Linked DNA regions of Homo sapiens. The protein of the gene in region 3 interacts with the protein of the main gene of each other region in a biochemical or structural test. Each region holds a gene or a part of one and is shown on either strand. Other genes may lie near its edges.

Region 1 (3,747 bases), on a different chromosome or scaffold from region 3:
TTCGGAGGTCTTGGTTTTCCTGAGTTTTCTTTCCTTTGAGGTTAGTCCCTTAGGTCTGGAAGGTCACTATTTGATGTAATAAGTGATGGGTAGACTGTTTCACTGCAGATCTAAAGAAGTTATAAACTGCAGTTGTAACATAAAGTCTGTGATAGCCTTCAGTGGGTCAGCTGACCAAAATTATGCACAGTTTTGTTTCTATCTGTATTTTCTGAGAAGAGGATCCGTAGCTTCCCTCAGATTAAAAAACTTCTGGTGAGCCCAAAGATTAGGCAGCTTCCCATGTTTCTCAATGGGGATACATACCACTGAAATTTGGACAAGAAAATTTGTTATTGTGCAATATGTGTAGTGTCTCTGGCCCATACCCCTTAAACGTCTGTAACATCCATAAGTTATTATGACAACCCCTCCTCCCATATTCCAAGCACTGATAATTGAGAGCCCAGATGAGATTAGAAGTCTAGACTGCATGTTTCCTTCATGTTTGATCTTTCTTCTTTCTCTCCCAGAGAACATGAAGGAAACACGTTTTCTTTGTTTGCTTTTGACAGCTAATTTCCAGCAGTCCATCTATTAAGGAATCTAGGATCCCACTTTTATGAGCACAAAACTCCCACTTTCCTTAGGGGTGTTCTCAGGTATTCTGACATAGTTTAATAGTTTCAGGGGAGGGCCTAAAAGTCGTATGTTGGGGACTAATTTTTATTCTGAAAATTTGGTAATTGCTACTGCAACATAGTGTGCCTTCTGCACTTTTTCCAAATCACCTTGAGAACTCCAGCCCTAACATCGATCCATCCTACTGGATGTCTTTTCTGATGTGAAATTAAAATGTTTCAGTGGGAGGCAAGATATGCAAAGGGGTAACTCCTGGGAGGTGCCCAGTTGTCACTGTAGCCTCTTTAGAATTTTCTCCTAGGACAGTCATTTAGTTTATTAATTCTGAAAGGCCAAACACCAAAATGAGATGTTAATCTGAAAGGAATAACTTCAAGACCTAATAAAGAATGACCACTGAGCAGAGTTTTTATAGATTGCAAATCACTTTCTCTTACATTTGACCTTGCAACATCTTCTAAAACTGGTTTGCCAATCTCTTCTTTTATGGATGAAGAAATGGAGGCTTCTAGGAACCAAGTGACATGCTCAGGATTGCACAGCTCTTCTTAGAAGGACTGGGGATTTCAACTCTGAGTCTTATACCTTTAAATGCCACTGTAACTCTATACTGCCTCCCTGATGCCTCAAAACACTTTTGAAAAGAAGGAACACGTCCTACTGGAGCTAATCAGAGGGAAGAACTAGAAGTACAAATGAGCCACAACGGAGAGTTTTAAAATTCTCTTCCCTAAGTGAGTTCCGGGAAGCTCGGGAAGGGGTGGACACTTGTACAGTTCACTTGTACATCTTCACTCCTGAAATGCTAGGACAAATCTCATTTGAACTCCCAGTCAACTGAGAAATTAAAAGCAGAGAGCAACGACGCTATTTTGTAACTTTGTGCCTTTTAAAATTAACCGAATCTTTCAATTGCTGCTGTAGATTAGAAGTGGCTACTTGGATAAAGGGGAAAGAGCCATTCAACTGATGAATACTATTGTAAAAGTCCAGACTTAGTTCTAGAAAAGGAACGCACAAGAACAATTTCTCCAATAACGTTTTCATTACAGAGCGAAGGAAAGTTCTTCCTCGTTGTTCCAATCCGAGGACAAGCTGATATGTCGCAGCAGCCCAGGGAAGCATGCGAGCTGATAGGAAGTCCTTTTATTTTAAGACAGGCTCGAATGCTAAAACTTTCTTGTGCCAAAACCCTTGACTATTTTATTTTTAAAATAAGCACTTGGCGTGCCCTCGCAGATGTCTGAGCTGAGAGGTCGGGGCGATGGTAGAAGAGCAGTCAGTGTCCATTCTTATTCATATTAAGTAGCCAAGTCTGTACCCTTGAAGCAAGTGGGGAGAGAGGAGGGAGAGGAGCTGCTGACATTGACAATGAATCCAAACAGGAGTTGCACTAGCGGTGTCCACCACGTTGCCTCTCCCCCGCCTGGCCTTCTGGGAGCTGTAGTTTTCGTGGGAGCGGCTCCCCAGGCGAGCTGGGAATGCCCCGCCCGGGCCGAACTACAGATCCCAGGCGGCGCTCGGCCGCCAGCCCCTCCCGCCCGGGTGCGAGTGTAAACTCCCCGCGCTGGGGCGGGCGGCCGCGAGCCGGCGAGCGGGCAGAGCTCGGCACTGCGCCGGGGCGCACGGCTCGGGGGACCCAGGCCCAGCTACCTTCCCTCCGCCCCCGGGCTCTGTTCTCACTTTCCAGCAGTGGAAGGACGGGAAGCGGGAGCCATGCAGTCCGAATCGGGGATCGTGCCGGATTTCGAAGTCGGGGAGGAGTTTCATGAAGAGCCCAAAACCTATTACGAACTCAAAAGTCAACCGCTGAAGAGCAGGTGAGTGGTGACAGCTGGGCAGAGGCGCACCGGGCGGCTGGGGGGCACTGCGTCTGCCACTCTGGGGCGAGGAGAGCGGGTCGCGGGAGCTCTGGGACAAGGACCCAGTGCCCTTGCCCCGGAGCAGAGGGCGAACTGCCCCTCGCAGTTGGGGGCCGCGCCTGCCCGGCCCAAGTGCGCCTTTAGGAAGCTCGGATGGAGCGCACTTCGCGGGGGCGCGGCGGGTCGCCGGGGACGAAGCGTCCAGGCGCGGGGACCCTCGGCCGAGGATGCCAGCTGCTGAGACTGATTGGGGGCTGGGGAGCGACCTGGCGCGATGTGGGGGAGGAGGAGCGCCGGGCCGGGACGCTGTCCCGGTGGGATGGGGGAGAAAGAGTTCTAGTGAACCCCCTTTCTGAAGATCCCAGCGGGTTGAGGGCTCGGAGAGGGAGAGCTTTGGGTGGACTGAGATGCGACATTGGAGGGAAGCAATTAGTTCGCTTGGAGTCACCTCTTGGGAGTCCGGTCTCTGTGGGGAAACTAGCCTCTGGGCTCCTGCAGGTGAGGTTTCTCTGGGCTCCGCCTCTCACCTCCAGACCGCTGCTAGCGGGCGCGGGAGGGGCCAGGGCAGCGGTGGGCGTGTCCCCTTGTTCAAGTTAAACTCTCTGGAAATAGAGTCCCATTCAAATCCAGGCCTTACCTGCAGAGGGGAAATGAGCCTTGGTCTTGGGGGTTACTGGGAGTGTACCCCGCTTGGCAGAGACACGTGTTTAATTCGCTGGGGACTTCAGAAACTTTTTAGACGAGGAGTGAAGACATCCACTGCTCTGATGCCCCATCCCCTCTAGTGCCCACTTCCCTTGAGCCACCCTTTTTGCTGCCTCCATTCCCACTTGTCTGTCGAAATGGATTGGGTGTCTTCCGTTCTCTCTGTCCGGCAGCCACTCTGGACGCCTCGTACTTCTCGTTTACAATGTTTCCTAAAAGGGACATGGTCAATGGAGGCTGGAATAGCTGAGAAGGGTTTATTTCCACCCCTCTAAGCTGTGAGCTAGGATAAGGCTATCATTGGAAGCATCCAGCAGGGCTTCTGCACTCGGCTGTAACTTCCTGCCTTGCCCTTCGCTGTGGATGGGGCCTGGGTGAATGGGCCTGGCTGGCAGAGTGGGAGAGGGTCTTGAAATGAGGGTGAGTGGAGAAGGGCAACTGAACGGGGAGCCAAGTGGTGTAATCTTGGCCTCTGGCGAGCACTGGGCTGGTTCTTTTTCTAGTGGAAAGTGCAGCCAGGTTTATTTCCTTCAGGGCTGTGGCAGGACTCTTTATCCAA
Region 2 (3,747 bases), on a different chromosome or scaffold from region 3:
TTGTATTAGTCTGTTCTCACACTGCTATAAAGAAATACCTGAGACTGGGTAATTTATAAAGGAAAGAGGTTTAATTGACTCAACAGTTCCACATGGCTGGTGATATAGTTTGGCTGTGTCCCCACCCAAATCTCATCTTGAATTGGAGCTCCCATAATTCCCCATATTATGTGAGGGACCCAGTGAGAGGTAACTGAATCATGGGGGTGGGTCTTTCCCGTGCTGCTCTTGTAATAGTGAATAAGTCTCACGAGATCTGATGGTTTTATAAAGGGGAGTTCCCCTACACAAGCTCTCTCGCCTGATGCCATGTAAGATGTGTCTTGCTCCCCCTTCACCTTCTGCCATAATTGTGAGGCCTCCCCAGCCATGTAAAACTGTGAGTCAATTAAACCTCTTTTATAAATTACCCAGTCTCCGGTATCTCTTTATTAGCCGCGTGAGATCAGACTAATACAGCTGGGGAGGCCTCAGGAAACTTACAATTATGGCAGAAGGGGAAGCAGGCACCTTCTTCACAAGGTGGCAGAAGAGAGTGTGAGTGTGTGAAAGTACAGGAAAAACTACCATTTATAAAACCATCAGATCCTGTGAGAATTCACTATCATGAGAACAGCATGGGAGAACCACCCCCATAATACAATTACTTCCTTCCCTCAACATGTAGGGATTACAATTCAAGATGAGATTTGGGTGGGGATGGAGACCCAAACCATATCAGAGCTCATAACTTAAGTGGTGGTAATCAAATCTAAAGCACATTTTATAGCACACACACTCGCTATTCCAAGGTTCCTTTCATGAGTGTCCATGTCACTGTCTCCCCAGGACCCCCACAGGAGCCTTGCACAGGTATCTCATGAACATCCAAGTACCACTTCTTGTAGGAAGCAGGGGTAACTTTCAATAGGGGTGGTTAAGGAAGACTCTGCAGAGAGGATGGAATTTAAACTGGGTTCTGGCCAGGCAGGGTGACTCACACCTGTAATCCCAGCAGTTTGGGAGACCAAGGCAGGTGGATCACCTGAGGTCAGGAGTTTGAGACCAGCCTGGCCAACATAGTGAAACCCTGTCTCTACCAAAAATACAAAAATTAGCCAGGTGTGGTGGCGGGCACCTGCAATCCCAGCTACTCAAGAGGCTGAGGCAGAAGAATTGCTTGAATCCAGGAGGCAGAGGTTGCAGTGAGTCAAGACTGTGCCATTGCACTCCAGCCTGAGTGATGAAACTTGGTCTCAAAAATAACTAAATAACTAAATAAAATAAACTGGGTCCTTATTTTTAGAAAAGGATCTCACTTTGTCATCCAGGCTAGAGTGCAGTAGCACAAACATGGCTCATGAAGCCTCGACTTCCTGGGCTCAAGCAATCCTCCCACCTCAGCCTCTCAAGTAGCTGGGACTACAGGTGCCTGCCACCATGCCCAGCTAATTTTTTTTTTTTTTTTTTTTGAGATGGAGTCTTGCAATGTCACCCAGGCTGGAGTGCAGTGGCGCAATCTCGGCTCACTGCAACCTCTGCCTCCCGGGTTCATGCGATTCTCCTGCCTCAGCCTCCCGAGTAGCTGGGATTACAGGCACACACCACCACACCCGGCTAATTTTCTGCATTTTTAGTACAGATGGGGTTTCACTATGTTGGCCAGACTGGTCTCAAACTCGTGACCTCATGATCCACCTGCCTCGGCCTCCCAAAGTGCTGGGATTACAGGCATGAGCCACTGTACCCGGCCCCACAATTTTTTTTTTTTTTTTTTTTTGGAGAGATGGGATCTTGCTATGTTGATCAGGCTGGAAACCTGGGTCTTGAATAATGGATACATTTGGAAGTGCAGAGCAAAGGCCAGAGAGATATCCAAGCCAGAGAGATATCCAAGGCAGAACAAAGCTCATAATTTAACAAGAAAGGTAGGCATAGATAGGCCTAATTATGATGAATGCTCTCTTACCAGTATAAACAAATTACAAAGGGAGTGATGAGAAGAGGCAATGAAGTTTGGGGAGGGAAAGAAAAGTCTGTGGTGGAGGTGATAACCTGAACTTGGCTTTGAGGAATAAAGAGTTTTATATCAGGGCATCAAGAGAAGGATATTCAAGGTACTTAGGACCAGAACAGGCAAAGGCACTGAAGCAAGAGAGTCTGGGGCAAGAATGTCTCTATTGGGTCAAGACTTTGACAATATTAAAGATTCCATTTTCTTCATATATGCCCCCCTGCTGTCTTTCCAATAAAGGTAAGCCCTGAAGCCTGACAGTCACAGGAAAGGAGAGGGTGTGTACTAGAGTAACAGCACAGTTGCTACTCAGCTGTGAATCTCAGAGCCTGCCTTTATTATCTTGATTATTCTTTGGCATCTCTAGGAAGATGATAAGTAGTCTTCAAAGTCAGACTTTACTGAGAATGAGAAGGGAGTTCTACATGCTAAGAGCTCCATTCACATACTAAAAGCAAAGCTTGGACAACTGAACATGAGTTTTACTCCTAACCATGGATAAGAGAAACTGAGAATACGATGTGAGAAGAGTCTCTTCATTAGGCAGGAGTGGAATGACTCCCAGGGCAGGGAGAGATTGATTGAGATTGCAATTGCCCTGTTGGGAAATAAACGGAAACTTCAGGATGGGTATGCGAGTCTTGGAGCAGCAGGGTTAGTCAACTACTTTCCTGGCATAGCCTGGGGAAGACTGCAAGCCACTCAAAAAAGTCCTACTCATGACTTAGAGGCTTACCCAGTATGGCACAGGAGCACTAGCTCAGCATTGGTGGAAGGAGGTGTCTAGTCAGTCTGAGAAAATGTTGGCTTCCCAAAGCTTGAGCAAGATGTTCAGTACATCCCAAAGTTCCAACATCATCCCTTCCCACCCACTCCAAAGCCCAGCAGATTAACAGTCCCATAGTTGGGACATGGAAGCTATTAAGGTAGAGACCTTGAGACCAAAGGCAATGACAGAGTTGTGGTCAGGAGCAGGGCATGACAGCAGTGAACAAAAGCCAGGGACCCACTTACATTACCCAGTAGACTCAGTGACATCCAGCAAAGATGGCAGGATGAGCACCAGCAGCAGGACCGTCAAGGACCTCAGCACATACATTAGAGAAACTCTTTCCTGTGTCACCTGGAGATGACTGTTCTCACCCACTAGATGCCATCATGAGGAAGAAGCTAGGAAGAACCTTTGAAAAGCTGAGCATTTATCCAAAGAGATGGTTTTAAGCCTGAGATAGGCTATTTGAATCGAAAGAGAACGTTATCTTTGATTGGCAAGTTTAAGGCCATCCACCTCGTCCCACACCTTCCCAAAACCAGATGGGATGCATGAGAAATTGATGTGAAATGAAGGAACTGTAACTTCTTTTCTGCATGATCTGAGTTTTAATGTGTGGGAGCTGGGAAGAGGGAAGAACATTGATAGAAAATCTGAAAGCCCACAGGGAATGTGGTCTAAAGCAGAGGTTTAAGTCCTGGCTGATAATCATTTTGGGTTTTCTGAAAATGCAGATCCCAGTGCTCCAATTCCAGACCTGCTAAAGCAGAATCTCACAATTGAGGCCAGGGAACCTACATTTTAGAAGCTCTCCTTCTGACTCCAATTTGGAAACCATTTATTTAACCACTAGTACAAAAACTGGCCTTGAATAAGACATCACTTCCTCCAAGTCTGAGTACAGCACGCAAGGGCAACTGCAGCAAATGGAGGGGTGATTTAGTAAGGAGGGGGTGAAACCGAAAATCAACAAGGTTTGTGT
Region 3 (3,747 bases):
TGCCAAGACATGGGCTGAGCTACCAGGTGGGCAGTGCCTTTCTCTCCAGCACTGATGGGAAAGATGATGCTTCGCAGCTAGTGGATTACTGCCAGGTAGTCGACCTATCCAAAGGGACATCTCAGTCCCACTTTAGCAACCATCAGGTCAGCATCATCACCACCACCCCCGAGCTTGAGCAACACTATTTCCCCAGGCCTGGAAGCAGCCAGAGTGGGGCAGGGAATGGCAGACAGCAAGCCACCCTCAGACACACCTCCGAGTCCATGCAGCCTCCCGCCTCCATCCCTGGACTCTGCTTTAAGCTGCTTATCTCCTCTCTTGCCCTTTCTCAGACTCTCAAACCCATCCCAGCCTCCTGGGAACAGGATAGGAGACAGGGAGAAGGAGGGAGAGACAAGAGGATTCAAGCCAGACAGCCCCACGGGAAGAAAGGGGCTAGGTGGCTGGAGGATTGTGCCCTTCAGCCCACCCCTCCCAACCACCTTAATTCACCTCAGCTATTTCCCCCAAGCCTCTGAAGCTTCTGTGGCCAGGGTTTTCAGGTCAGGGTTCAATGCTCATAACTTCCCCAGATCCTTTCTTGGAATCGTTTATATAACCACCCCCTCCCCACAACTTAGTCCTATTTTTCTGGAAGGGAAACAGGACCAAAACTTGGGTCGGGGAGATTAACAGTGAATCACTGAGTCCAAGTATCCTGCCTGTTTACTCTATCTGCCAGGAACCATAATCTGGCATCTCTCCTACACAGAGAAATTAATACTCCTCTACAACTTACAGCGCCCCCCTATAGGGGTGGAAGAGGAGAGGGCAGAGCTCTAAACAGAGACCCTGGGTGGATGAAGGAAAAGCCTCTGAGTCAGGGCACAGAATCGCAAATCCCCTGAAGGTAGCTGGGCCCAGTGGCTAGACCTCCAGCCTTCCCAGGACCATAGCTCCCATTTCAAAGGGCAGAAGAAAACCAGGAGGCAGGCGGATGAACTCGGTAGTTTGAGGTTCTATGAGATGTCCTCAGATGTGGTCACCCTCCAAACTCTATGTAGCAGGAGGGGAGCGCTCTCCTTAGAAGACTCCCTTCTGTGAATCTCTAGGAGATCCTGTCATGTGCAGGGCTTGCTAGCCCTACACAATTCTTCTCATAGGAGGCTTTGTCTTGGACCCCTTTTATGGAATGTGATGAGAAACTTGCTCCTCTTTCTCCCCATCCTTATCTCCTCTGTCCTGTCTTTTTTTCTCCATTAGCTTCCCCTATAACTTCCCACCTTTCTATCCCATAGTTTCACATGCCTCTGCCTCTTCCCAAACACCGCGATTCACTACGGCAGGACCTTCCTCTGAGCCTCCAGGATGCTTCTGCCCCACCCCTCGAGGTATCGGCCCGCACAGCCCCGCCCCCTGCATCTCAGCAGCCTACTGGTATTTCCCAAAGCTCGGATCCCGAGAGTAGCCCCAAAGACCCTATCCTCTCAGCTGCCTTTCCCCCGGAGCCTCCCCTACGTCTGCCCCGCGGTCCCATCCCTGCATGTGCCCCCTACTGTTGCATCTCTTGGCCTTGATCGACTCGCCCCCAGTGCCTCTACAGCACCTTTTCCCCCTGGCCCTACCCCAACAACCGCCCCTACTACTAAATCCGACTTCTACCCCTCGTCCCCGCCCCCTGCGCCTCAGCCCCCAACAGCTGCAATTCCCCTCGGCCCCACCCCTACATCTGCCCCGCAGCCCCGCCCCCGGAGCCCCGCCGCAGCCCCTTCCTCGCTCTCAGCTACTTCTCTCCCATCCTCAGCAGCTCGTGCCTGCCACGTCGTCGGCGCCCACCCGAGCCCCGGCACCCAGTCTCGGTCGCTTCCCGGACACGGCGTACCGCCGGGCTGAGTCCAGATGGGGATGGGGGGAGGGGGCCGGTACCTTTAATTCGCCCAGCTCCGCCATCTTGAGACATCGCAGGCGCCCCAGCCGGAGCCGGAGCTCAGGCCCAGGGACCGGCGCACAACTCTCCACCCTGGCGCCGGCCGCAAATGCCGCCTGCTCCGCCCAGTCCGGCCCCCTATACCTCCCCTTCCCGGCCCCGCCCGCCTGGCTTCGGACAAGCCCCAGCCTGAGCCCCTCCCTCCACAGCCGACCCAGCAGCTACACGTCTGCGGCCGGTTGGCAGGACGCGTAGCCCCGGAGGGAGTGTATGGCCCCCAAGATCGCGGGGTCCCTAGGGCAACGGGGAGGAGGCGGGCCCGAAGTGCCTGGTGGAGGGGGGCTTTGCCACGGCAGAGTTGGGAGGGGACAAGCTTTTAGGGAGCCAAAGATACTTGAAAGATGGAGGGAAAGTATCGGGAACTGCTAGAGCTCAGAGAAATGGGGGAGGGGGTAGCGAAGTTGGAGCGCAAACCCTCATCTCCATCTCTGCATAAGTTTAATCAACTAAAATCGAGAGGTCTTCCAACTCGGGAAATGGGCGAGCGCTGATCCGTCTTAGGGAAGCCGTGGAGTCGGCATTCAGTAATTCACCCTCTCCTCCTCCCCCATACACCAACTACAGTGCAGCTCGTGGTCCGATCGTAGGACTCAAACTCGGCAGCAAAAAAAAGTTTGGTGCGGGGAGCGGGACTTACCAGCACAATTGTGGGAAATGGAGAGAGGGCTCGGGAGGCTCAGAGGGCGAGCTGGAGAGGTGGGGGAATGGGGCTCGGCGCTGCTCCTGCTGTCCGCACGGCAGAAGTTCGGTCCAGCAGCCGGACGCGGCGGCCGCGGCTCCGCCCGGGCCGGAGCTCCGCCCGGCCTAGCGCTCGGGCTGGGGCCGCCCCCTCCAGGGGAAGCCCGCCAGGACCGCCAAGAGGGAAGGGGGGCGGAGCTCGGGCGAGAGAGGGAGGGACTCAGAGCTCGACGTTGGAGAGATTAACTCCTGGTGTGAGTGGATCTGGAGAGACGAGATCCTTGGATCCCATCATTCTCACTACCTCTGTGACCCCTCAACGCTTACGTATGGGATTGGGGTGGTGGCACACTGCTGCTAAGCCGGTGTGAACCAGGTATCTGACAGTATAAAGCAGTCTTCCTTGAAATGACAACTGTCCCTCCCTAGGGCAAAGCCTGGGGTACTGAATCCAAAGTGTACCTAACAGTAACTACCCTAGATACACGTGCAGAATACCTCCACCAGAGCCCCCATACCTTTGGTGTAGCTGAAGATGAACAGAGGGGTTTTCTTACCCACAAAAGGGATCTTTCTGTCCCTCTCTGAACTGCCTACCCACTCTCCTTCCTCCAAAGCCTTGGACCCTCCAGAGGCCCCATCCCAACCAAGCTGATCACTCACATGCAGGCACCAAATTAAATCTGTTTCTGTATCCATGGAAATACCTATTTTTTTATTTTTTTGGGGGGGGACCAAGTCTCACTCTGTCACCCAGGCTGGAGTGCAGTGGCGCGACTTGGCTCACTGCAACCTCCGCCCCCCGGGTTCAAGCAATTCTCCTACCTCAGCCTCCCGAATAGCTGAGATTACAGGCCTGCGTCACCACGCCCGGCTAATTTTGTATTTTTAGTGGAGACAGGGTTTCACCATATTGGCCAGGCTGGTCTCAAACTCCTGACCTCGTGATGCGCCCGCCTCACCTTGGCCTCCCAAAGTGCTGGGATTACAGGCGTGAGCCGCCGCGCCTGACCCAGAAAATACCAACTTAAGGGAAATGTACCCGCACTACATACTGAGAAACTCACAGCATTTTATAGTTGGCTGCAATTTGTTCAATA

What was found.
Region 1: the proteins of PIAS3 (region 3) and MITF form a complex in vitro, tested with the Homo sapiens proteins (2 studies listed by BioGRID).
Region 2: the proteins of PIAS3 (region 3) and SMAD2 form a complex in vitro, tested with the Homo sapiens proteins (one study listed by BioGRID).

The regions. Positions count from the first base shown.
Region 1 is NC_000003.12:69,737,261-69,741,007, forward strand, and holds the start of MITF (microphthalmia-associated transcription factor), read left to right. Parts: upstream 1-2,203; 5' UTR 2,204-2,337; coding exon 2,338-2,441; intron 2,442-3,747. UniProt on the Homo sapiens protein: Transcription factor that acts as a master regulator of melanocyte survival and differentiation as well as melanosome biogenesis.
Region 2 is NC_000018.10:47,811,974-47,815,720, forward strand, and holds part of SMAD2 (mothers against decapentaplegic homolog 2), read right to left. Parts: 3' UTR 1-3,747. UniProt on the Homo sapiens protein: Receptor-regulated SMAD (R-SMAD) that is an intracellular signal transducer and transcriptional modulator activated by TGF-beta (transforming growth factor) and activin type 1 receptor kinases.
Region 3 is NC_000001.11:145,857,059-145,860,805, forward strand, and holds the start of PIAS3 (E3 SUMO-protein ligase PIAS3), read right to left. Parts: upstream 2,024-3,747; 5' UTR 1,933-2,023; coding exon 1,909-1,932; intron 1-1,908. UniProt on the Homo sapiens protein: Functions as an E3-type small ubiquitin-like modifier (SUMO) ligase, stabilizing the interaction between UBE2I and the substrate, and as a SUMO-tethering factor.